3 linked regions of the Homo sapiens genome follow. The protein of the gene in region 3 purifies or fractionates together with the protein of the main gene of each other region. This does not show direct contact. Each region holds a gene or a part of one and is shown on either strand. Other genes may lie near its edges.

The links.
Region 1: the proteins of NCAPG2 (region 3) and VRK1 purify together in Homo sapiens (affinity purification with mass spectrometry; one large-scale study listed by BioGRID and IntAct). This does not show direct contact.
Region 2: the proteins of NCAPG2 (region 3) and SSU72 fractionate together in Homo sapiens (co-fractionation; one large-scale study listed by BioGRID). This does not show direct contact.

What each region holds. Positions count from the first base shown.
Region 1 is NC_000014.9:96,877,334-96,879,854, reverse strand, and holds part of VRK1 (serine/threonine-protein kinase VRK1), read right to left. Parts: intron 2,354-2,521; coding exon of another isoform or gene 2,282-2,353; intron 1-2,281. UniProt on the Homo sapiens protein: Serine/threonine kinase involved in the regulation of key cellular processes including the cell cycle, nuclear condensation, transcription regulation, and DNA damage response.
Region 2 is NC_000001.11:1,561,359-1,565,015, reverse strand, and holds part of SSU72 (RNA polymerase II subunit A C-terminal domain phosphatase SSU72), read left to right. Parts: intron 1-99; coding exon 100-243; intron 244-3,657. UniProt on the Homo sapiens protein: Protein phosphatase that catalyzes the dephosphorylation of the C-terminal domain of RNA polymerase II. Plays a role in RNA processing and termination. Plays a role in pre-mRNA polyadenylation via its interaction with SYMPK.
Region 3 is NC_000007.14:158,687,678-158,691,334, reverse strand, and holds part of NCAPG2 (condensin-2 complex subunit G2), read left to right. Parts: intron 1-612; coding exon 613-767; intron 768-1,381; coding exon 1,382-1,516; intron 1,517-3,657. UniProt on the Homo sapiens protein: Regulatory subunit of the condensin-2 complex, a complex which establishes mitotic chromosome architecture and is involved in physical rigidity of the chromatid axis.

The sequences.
Region 1 (2,521 bases), on a different chromosome or scaffold from region 3:
TGGGTTCAAGTGATTCTCCTGCCTCAGCCTCCAGAGTAGCTGAGATTACAGGTGCCTGTCACCACGCCCAGGTAATTTTTGTATTTTAGTAGGACTTAGACTTTCACCATGTTGGTCAGGCTGGTGTCGAACTCCTGACCTCAAATGATCCACCCGCCTCAGCCTCCCAAACTGCTGGCATTACAAGCATGAGCCACTGCGCCCGGCCTATTTCAAGAAATTTGAAATTAATTCTGCACAGAAAACTGAAAATGCTGCGATAGTGAGACTGGCATAAAGGGTATTACAAAATCAAGGTCAATAATCAATACTATATCTCCCTTTCAACACATTTTAAATCTTTAACCACACTACAAAGAACACTAAATTAACAACTATAAAGTTACATTCAAATAGCATTATTCTCATTAATGTCTTAATTTGCCATTTTACTCTGAAATTAAATATCACTGCTGCTCATCTCCTTCAATCCAAAGTTTCTCACTGCAACTAAAAGGGCTACTACTGCCTGGAATTTATTATATAATCAGTCCTACGCACCTTGTTGACTTTGCTGCATAAATCAATTCAATATTTTCCCTAATAATCAATTCTGATTGTTACAAAAAAAACTACCTTATCTCTTTAATTAAATATATAACCATTTTCATAATATACACTACTGGCAAAGGGTCCAATCAGAAGACTAATGTATATAATTTGATATTTGGAAAATAACATACAAGTTTGGGATGCTTTTCTATGATTTTATAATGCAGTAGGAAAAAAAAAGTAGGAAATTTCTTTGTAGGGTTCCCTTAAAAATATCTACTTTTTGACTAGTCATGCTTTCTCCAAAGATTCCTCAGGAATGGTCCAAAATCCAAGGTTCTTAAAAATAATACCAACAAAAGTAGCCTCCATTTTATGAACAGGAGGGGGGAAAGTACACCAGCCATAAATATCATGGCTATATTAGCTAATTTTTAGCACAATTCTGAAATACTGGCATGATTTTGAAATGCCAAAATATGCATGATTTTTAAAGGCTCCTCATTTTGTGAGGGGAAAAATTACTTGCAGCCAGTAACCAAATTTTCTCAACTGGTAAAAATTATGCCTTGCATAAAAATAAAAGGATTAGAGGCCTCTGTTCTTCTTGAAAACCATCCCATCACCTCCTCTATTTATTTGAGAAAACCTACACAATACACATTTTGAAAGCTTTCAGAATGTGTTCTTACACAATAGACCCCCAACTATTCAAAATGAGTTTAGGTGTATCTAGAAAATTATACACATTTTTAAAATGGTCTAAATAGATATTAAAGGAAAGTTGCTCCCATTTTGCTAGGCACAGCATTCTGAAAGATCACACAGTGCGAAAAATCTCTTACCATACTGTAAATCATAAATTGTGTTTGAAAATAAAATTGTTAATGAAGAAACTGACATTTCTAAAGCTGCTGTTAGAGGTAACCATTCTTGAAACACGTTTATGACACAAAATCTTAAAGCCCTAAAACACAGTGTTCACTGAATTGTACTATATATCTTAAAAATTAAAAAAACAAATGTAATAATGTGTCTTTTCCTTCAAGTAACTTTTAAACTGATAAATTTAAAAATATACATTTACATGAACTCTTGGCTTTTTCTTTTTGCTGGAAGCAATAATATTTTACCATCAGATAATATTTCTCTCACTTATGATTATTTTGATAGTAAAATACCTTAACTCGCATTGTACTTTAGGGGAAAAAAGTGAACTGTAATGGGGGAAATAAACAGCATTTTAAGAACGGCAATTTTGAGTTTATATGAATAAGGGTGAATCTGACTATTCTTTATCTTCTGAAAAAGTTAGGTCAAAAAAACTGAATTGTTCTCCTTAAATTATTTATGACTTTACTATACTCTTTTGTCATTAATAAAATAACAAAAATACTGATATATTTTCTCATGGGAAAAAGCATCAGTAGAAGACCTTAAACTAAAAACTTAGGTTAAAAAAAAATTCATAATTATACTAGAATTTAAAGGCATTTATCTATCAAAACAAAAACGCTTGATGCTCATTAAGCAAAGTTCAGGTAACAAATGATGTCCAGGCAGTCAAGAAAGGGATGAGTCTTCCTGATGCGCAGCTGAGACTCTGCCTTAGACTTAATGAGTGTCAATCTCACTAGAACAATGCAGGATCTTTCTGAAACTAAAATTGCCAGTTTTAAAATTTAAGGGATTGTTTTTTAAGAATATTGCTGTATATTTATAAATACTCCTTAATTTTGTTCCCACTCACTGTCATAGCTGCTGCTGCTAGCCTCTGGCTGAGACATGCTTCGATGTATTGCTCCTTGGGACTCCTCACTTCCTAATAACAAAATGAACAAGACAGGGGAAAGGAGGAAAAAAGACAGTAGCGAAAGGAAGACAGCAGCGGGAAAAAGAGAGGGACTACTTCAAAACCTCTCGCCTTCAGTGTGAAGTTATATATTCCCTCTTCAGGTATCTCAAGTATTCTTTGGGTTAAAACAGATTA
Region 2 (3,657 bases), on a different chromosome or scaffold from region 3:
GAAATTACTCATTTTGTTTCTATCCCATTTGCTGTCCCTTGCTTTTGGAATTTTGTGTCTTAGTGTGACTGTGATTCTTTCTCTCCTTTTGTCTTTCAGCAAACGGGGATTCAGCGTCCGATCCTTTGGAACAGGGACTCACGTGAAGCTTCCAGGACCAGCTCCCGACAAGCCCAATGTTTATGATTTCAAAACCACATATGACCAGATGTACAATGATCTTCTTAGGAAAGACAAAGAACTGTATCCCAGCGGGTTGCCCTTTAAAAACCCCCCGTGTGGTCCTCCCTGGAAGGTGTTACGTGTGGCTCGGGCACAGGAGGCGTGTCACCCTGTGCAGTGCACACACTGGCTCCTCTGTCTTTGCGAGAGCTTGGTTTCTATTCCTGGTGCACGTCGGATCGTCCACGGGTTAGTTCCAGTGCCACCCATGGCAGTAGGCGTGGTGAGGCGCACAGACACGGTGTGGGGTTCACCCTGACGTGGTTCAGCAGAGGGTCGTGACATAGCGTAGACCAGGGATGCTTAGGTGAGGAGGTGGAACCCACAAAATCCCATTGCTTTTCACACTGCAGGGCTGCCCCGTTATTTCCTTTGCAGGTTGGTGTGCGTGCGTGTGTGCGTGCGTGCCTGATACACATGGAGCCGGGCTGCTTCACACATCTGGTGAGGTCGTTAGAAGGTCAGATAAAGAAGAGGGCGGAGCTTGCTAACCAAGCTGTTAGAAGAAATAATGGGAGAGAACATTCCTTCATTTCAGGAGGACACAGAGCAGGCTAGGTCTGCCGCGAAGACTCCTATAGAGAGAAGAGTATTCTTAAACTAGATTCTGATGGACGCAACACCAGTTGCATAATGGTTATGACAATCAGTGCCCGGGTTTTTGACCAGGCATTTCATGGTCACCCCCACGCTAATGGAAAGTTTCTGGATCTTATTTTGTTATAGTGAGTGATTTGTAGTTTTCAGAACGGAGGCCAGGCCAAACGTATTCCAAATGAAAAGAGAATAGGTGTCAAATGCTAAACCTTTTATCTTCGTGTTGGCACTGTTGCCATCCCCGCCCTCTCCCGACATCCCCGCCCTTGACCAGCATCTCTGGCCTTGCCCAGCATTGTCTATGTATTGGCACTCTTGCCATCCCCGCCCTTTCCCAGCAGAGTCTCACTGTGTCACCCCGGCTGGAGTGCAGTGGCGAGATCTTGGCTCACTGCAGACTCACTGCAACATCCACCTCCCGGGTTCCAGTGATTCTCCTGCTTCAGCCTCCTGGGTAGCTGGGATTACAGGCACGCGCCACCACACCTGGCTAATTTTTGTATTTTTAGTAGTCACAGGGTTTCACCATGTTGGCCAGGCTGGTCTTAAACTCCTGACTTCAGGTGATCCACCCTCCTCGTCCTCCCAAAGTGCTGGGATTACAGGCGTGAGCCACCATGCTCAGCCCTACTCTTGTATTTTTTTTTTTTTTTTTTTTTGAGATGGAGTCAGAGTCTCACCCTGTTGCCCAAGGTGGAGTGTAGCGGCTTGATCTCAGCTCACTGCAACCTCCCCCTCCCAAGTTCAAGCGATTCTCTGCCTCAGCCTCCCGAATAGCTGGGATTACAGGCATCCGCTGTCATGCCTGGCTAATTTTTGTATTTTTAGTAGAGACGGGGGTTTCACCATCTTGACCAAACTGGTCTTGAACTCTTGACCTCGTGATCCAGCTGCCTCGGCCTCTCAGAGTGTTGGGATTACAGGCGTGAGCCACCATGCCTGGCCTCTTGGAATATTTAATAAGCTAAAAAATTCTTATACACAGGTAGATTAATTAGGTAGCCAGGAGTGGCCCCTGAAAGTATGTCTGGCAAAACCTAGAACTGCATCCTAGCCATCACTGTACCTTCTGCCCTCCCTGCTGTCTCCTCTGCCAGTTACAGTTAAAAGGTTGTGGGTGAGGACGCTGGGCAGAGTCCCAGGCGTCTGCTGTCAGCTCCCCAGCCCGGCCTGCCTGCCGAGCCATCTGGGCGTCCCACGGTGGAGAGTGTGGTGCTTGTGACGCGGTGGTGCTGGGAGCCATCCTGGTGGCAGATGTGGGCTCTCACTGCAAGTCAGTGTAAGTCCCCAGGGACTGTCAGCAGCACGTCCTGCTGCCCCTCTCTCTGCAGAAGCCCTGGTAACCTGCGTTTGGAAAAATCTCTAAGGATTTCTGAGGAGCTGTCAGGCCATGTCCTTGTCCACCCTGTGTGGGGCACGGCTTCGACATGGCTCTGCTCCCGTCGTGGGCTGAGAAGGAGCAGGTGGGGCTGTGCCTTGGAAAGGAGGCCCTCCCGACATGCCTTTGTGCGAGGTCCCTGTCCATGCTGTCTCCATCCCGGAGCCTTACGGCGATGGGTGGCCACAGAGCCTATTCCAAGAGTCTGGTTTAGGGCTGGGTCTTCCCATCTTCACCTCTGAGTCTTAGGCGATGCGTGACCACGCAGCCCCTTCCAGGAGTCTGGTTTAGGGCTGGGTCTTCCCATCTTCACCTCTGAGTCTTAGGCGGTGCATGACCACGCAGCCCCTTCCCGGAGTCTGGTTTAGGGCTGCGTGCTCAAGAGTCTGGTTTGGGGCTGGGTCTTCCCATCGCCCTGGAGGAGGCTTTTGTCTCATCTCATGATTCACATTAAACTCTGTGCCATGAAGCTTAGCCTGACATCCTGTTTTTGACAATTACTCTTCAGTTAGCACTGTTTATTTTTAAGTTCTTGTATATTCAGTAAGAGAAAGAAAAGCAGAGAGTGACGCACATCCTCACACTCCCTTGATTGGTGTAAGCTCAGCCCCTTCATGTCAGCCCACTGTGACCTCCTGGGTTCCAGACCTGGGAAGTACTTGCCACGTTCTGCAAGGACTGAGTCCAGCTTCAGCAGTCTCATCCGGAAGGACTTGGTATAGGCAGAGGATGAGCCTGTCTCTGGTCATTCTAAAAGAAGGAGCTGAGCCCAGTGTCCCAGAATTCGGAAGCTCCTCCTTTACAGAGGGACTGTAGGGGTTGGTGATCTCCCAGGAAGCATCGGCCCAGAAGAACCCCGCGTGCGTGTGTGTGCTCTTGGTGTGTGGTGGGGGGAAGGAGTGGCAGCAGGGGTGGCGCTGGGACACTGTCAGCCACGGGCTCTGCTTTGGGGACCTCGTGTGGGAAAGGCATTGCCTGTGGTGGCCCCTCAGGAGGCTCTAGGAGGAGCGTGCCTTCATTACCTTATTTCACTCGGGGGGCGTCTTTGCCCCCTAGGTGGGGGCAGAAGGTGCAGAATGGGAAGCCTGCCACTTAGCTAAAGCTCTTGCACATGATGCCCTTGGCCTGGAGAGGAGTGAAGTCCCCAGGCAGTTCCCTGTGGACACTGGCACGATGCCGGGTGGGGCCTCAGGGGTGTTGAGATGTGCAGGTCGGGAGGACCCCGATAACGTTTCCTGGTTAGTGATGGGTGCAGGGGGGCCGCGGGAAGTGACTGTTACAAGTGAGAGCCCGAAAGCAAATCTGCCCCACAGCAGCCGGTGCGTTGGCAGAAGTCATCGCCGTAAACTGCAGTGGAAGCAAGACGGGGTTCAAGATGCGGCCCAAAGATAAGACGCAGCACTTGGTCGAGTGTTCACAGCGTCAAGACAAAGGACGGGCCGGCGCGGTGACTCAGGCCT
Region 3 (3,657 bases):
ACACTGTAGTTGCTATCAACTTCCCAGTTAATTCAGGAATGTTATATTAGTGTAATGACATTCAGATACCTACAGATTATAATTATGAGCATTAGTATCATTAATCTAATTATTGAGCTTTTCTGTTAATAAAAGCACTGCAGTTTTTGTATTCATTATGGTAATTGCTTTGACTGTTTTTCACCTCTGAGCCAAAATTTGAGGCTGGCACATTGAGGGATAGTAGTGGATTATTGATTGGTCAGTAGACCTGTCTTGGCTCTGGTGTTAACAGAGATACCATTGGTGTTGTTACACTGAGGTTTGGTTAGCCTCAGCATCTGCCTTTCTAAAATTGGTGATACGATTTCTCTGAGACTTCCAGTTCCAAAAATCTCTTTTCTATTATGTCTGTTGAGGGTCTTTTTATAACAATCGTCAAACAGTTTTTTAATTAACATTATTTGCATTTTATAACTAATGTATATAAATCTTTGGCAAGTTAAACATAACTAATATTATTTGCTTAGCAAAGCTTTAAATAATATATAAAGTCATGATACTCTAAACTGTTGACTCTGAAGTAATAAGAATTTGCCTTACTAATTGGAAAATTACTGTGCTGTATTTTAGGTATTTTATATGCATTACCTGAGTCTGAACGAAAACTACAGAGTTCTATTCAGGATTTGTGTGTTACCTGGTGGGAGAAAGGCCTGCCTGCCAAGGAAGACACAGGAAAGACAGCCTTTGTCATGTTACTAAGGAGGAGTCTGGAGACTAAGACAGTATGCTCACTTTTTATTTTTTTAAAGACAGGGTCTCTCTCTATTGCCCAGATGGAGTGCAGTGGCATGATCATAGCTCACTGCAGCCTCAAACTCCTGGGCTCGAGCAATCCTCCTGCCTCAGCCTCTCAAGTAGCTGAGACTTCAGGAGTGCACCACCTAGCTAGGACTTTATTTTTAAACGTCTTCCTAACATTCTAAACCTGCGCTATTCAACGTAGTAGCCACTTGCCACAGAAAGCTGTTTAAATTTAAAGTTAAAAATAATGAAAAATTCAGTTCCTCAGTTGCATTAGTCACATTTTAGTAGCTCTACAGTGAAATGTGGCTAATGTCTACTGCACTAGACAGTTCAGATGTATAAAATCTTCATCATCGAGGAAGTTCTTAAACTTGCTGGATTTTTAATTATTTTCCTTATGTTTTAAAAAAATGTTCTGTAGAGCTATAGGGGGCATTTGCAAATTTTAAAATCTGTTTTTATTTGTCGTTATTTTTTAATCTTTGATGAATCAACTAGAATTACCATTATTTATGATATAAAATATACTTGATTTGAAATATGACTTTACTGTTCATTGAAAAAGGTATCACATTTTTTGTGTCATTCCTAGGGTGCAGACGTATGTCGGCTTTGGCGTATCCATCAAGCTTTATATTGCTTTGATTATGATTTGGAGGAAAGTGGAGAAATTAAAGATATGTTACTTGAGTGCTTCATAAATATTAATTATATCAAGAAAGAAGAGGTAAATAGGTATTTGTTTTTTGATCTGTTTGTGAGCTGCTTCTTAATAGATGTTTCTCCTGTGTTCACATGGTTCCTGTCTGCACCATGCTCGGTGTTGCTTAGCTACCAGGAGCTATTTACTGCACATGATTTTTACTGCATGGCAGTACTAGAGAAGACATTTTACAAGTCCTTGCTTATTTCATCATTAAATTGGATGGTAACAGGTGGCTGTGTGTTACCTAGGGGAACCGTAATTACATTTTAAATTAAGAATGATTAAAAATAAGGTTGAGAAAGCACTTCTCTATGAATGAGATCTGGCCTTCTGCCCTAATTCCATTTTAATTGCCATGTACTCAAAACTGTCATCCCATAATATCCTCCCTTTCTTTTTTCTACCCATCCTGTAAATCCAGAGAGGCTTCTGGCCTGTTGCTGCACTGCCCGTCCTGGGGTCAACTCCCATATGAGGCTACTGAGCACCTGAAATGGGACCCAACTGAACTGAGATTAGCCATAAGTATAAAATACACATGGATTTGAAGATTTAGTGGGAAAGAAATGAACATAAAATAGCTCATTAATAATTTTTGTTCTATACTTAATATAATAGACAATATTTTTATTGTCTGTTATATTAAATATTGCTTTACATAAAATATATTATTAAAATTAATCTTCTTTACTTTTGTTAACATGACTACTAAAGAATTGAGAATTACAGAGAGGCTCGCATAGTTCTTCTGTGTTAGGGGCCTTCTGCAGTTGTTTACTGAGCGTCGACTACATGCTCAGGCAGTGCCAGGGGAGACTAGAACAAGCTTTTGCATTTGGATGCTCATGGCTCAGCAGGCACATCTCTGAGGCAGAAGGAGGAAGTCATCCCTCCTCCCTGAAGGAGGTGGAGAAGGGCTTCAGAGGAAGAGGAGGACCAGCTCTGAGGTACAGAATAAGTTTCCTCCAGGTGTCACAGCTGCTCAGCGGCAGAGACAGAACTGGACCCCGGCGAGCCATCTGCAGTCTGCTAGACAAAGGGCCATGTGATTAGGACTGAGACCTTTGGCTCCCAGGGTCTTTGTTCACTTTATAGGTGGTGCCCTTGGTCAGGCCTTTCAGCCTCAGAGTTTTGTTCTGTAAAATAGGAGCAACAGTTACTGTTTCACAGGATTGTTGTTAGGAACAGATGAGGTAATATGTATCAAACCGCAGCCCAGGCGCTGGTGGATAAGAACCCCTGGGGAGGGCTGCCCTTTGCCATCCTTGCTGTGTCAGCACCATCGTTATTACAAAGATGTTGGACACAGCCTGTGCCCCACACATGTCTCCAGGATTGTTCTGAAATGGGAGAGTGAAGAAATTAATGATGGATTCAAACAATAAACTATTTTATGTTGACTTATACATAAGGAGTTGATGAATCGTACTTGTTAACTTATATATGTGTGCAGATATATAACAGACATAAATGTATGTATGTGTTATAACCTCTACCCTTTTTAAAAAATTGATGTCTCCTTTGAATTTAAGATATCTAAATGTAGTTTCCTAATCAATCATTAATTTGGTCAGGTCAGTTTCCAGTCATTCTGGGTAAACCATAAACATCTTGTACTGTACTAACAGATTACTTCCAGTGAATATTACTGTTTTTTTTTTTAACTTGCCTGTTGTGAGCATGGTTACCCTGCATTTGAATCAAAATGTATTGCATTTCTGTAGGATTCCAGTTCTGTGCAGTGGTGTGCTGGTAAGAGATGAAGGTGCTATTCACTGAGAGAGTTCTAGATAGATGCATCTTATGCACTCTATAGAGTATGAAGATTGTATTCATTCTTCTTAGGTTCAGATACATAATCTAGTAGCATGCATATAAATTATCATCACATGATGTATTTATGACTTGAAGACTGTGTATTTGGAAATTCTAGCTTGACAAACACTTAGCCTTTTAACTATATGAGTCCTCAGTTTTCTCATCTATAAATGAGAAGGTGAAATGAACTGGGATATTCAACTCCATTCCCACCCACCTATGCTAGATTTAAAGCTTTCTTTCATTTGAGACTATGGAACCATCCATGACAGAGCCAGAATGAGATGTTTATGGACCCATGGTTACTGTCTGTGGTCTCCATCTCTGCACCTGTGGCCCTTGAG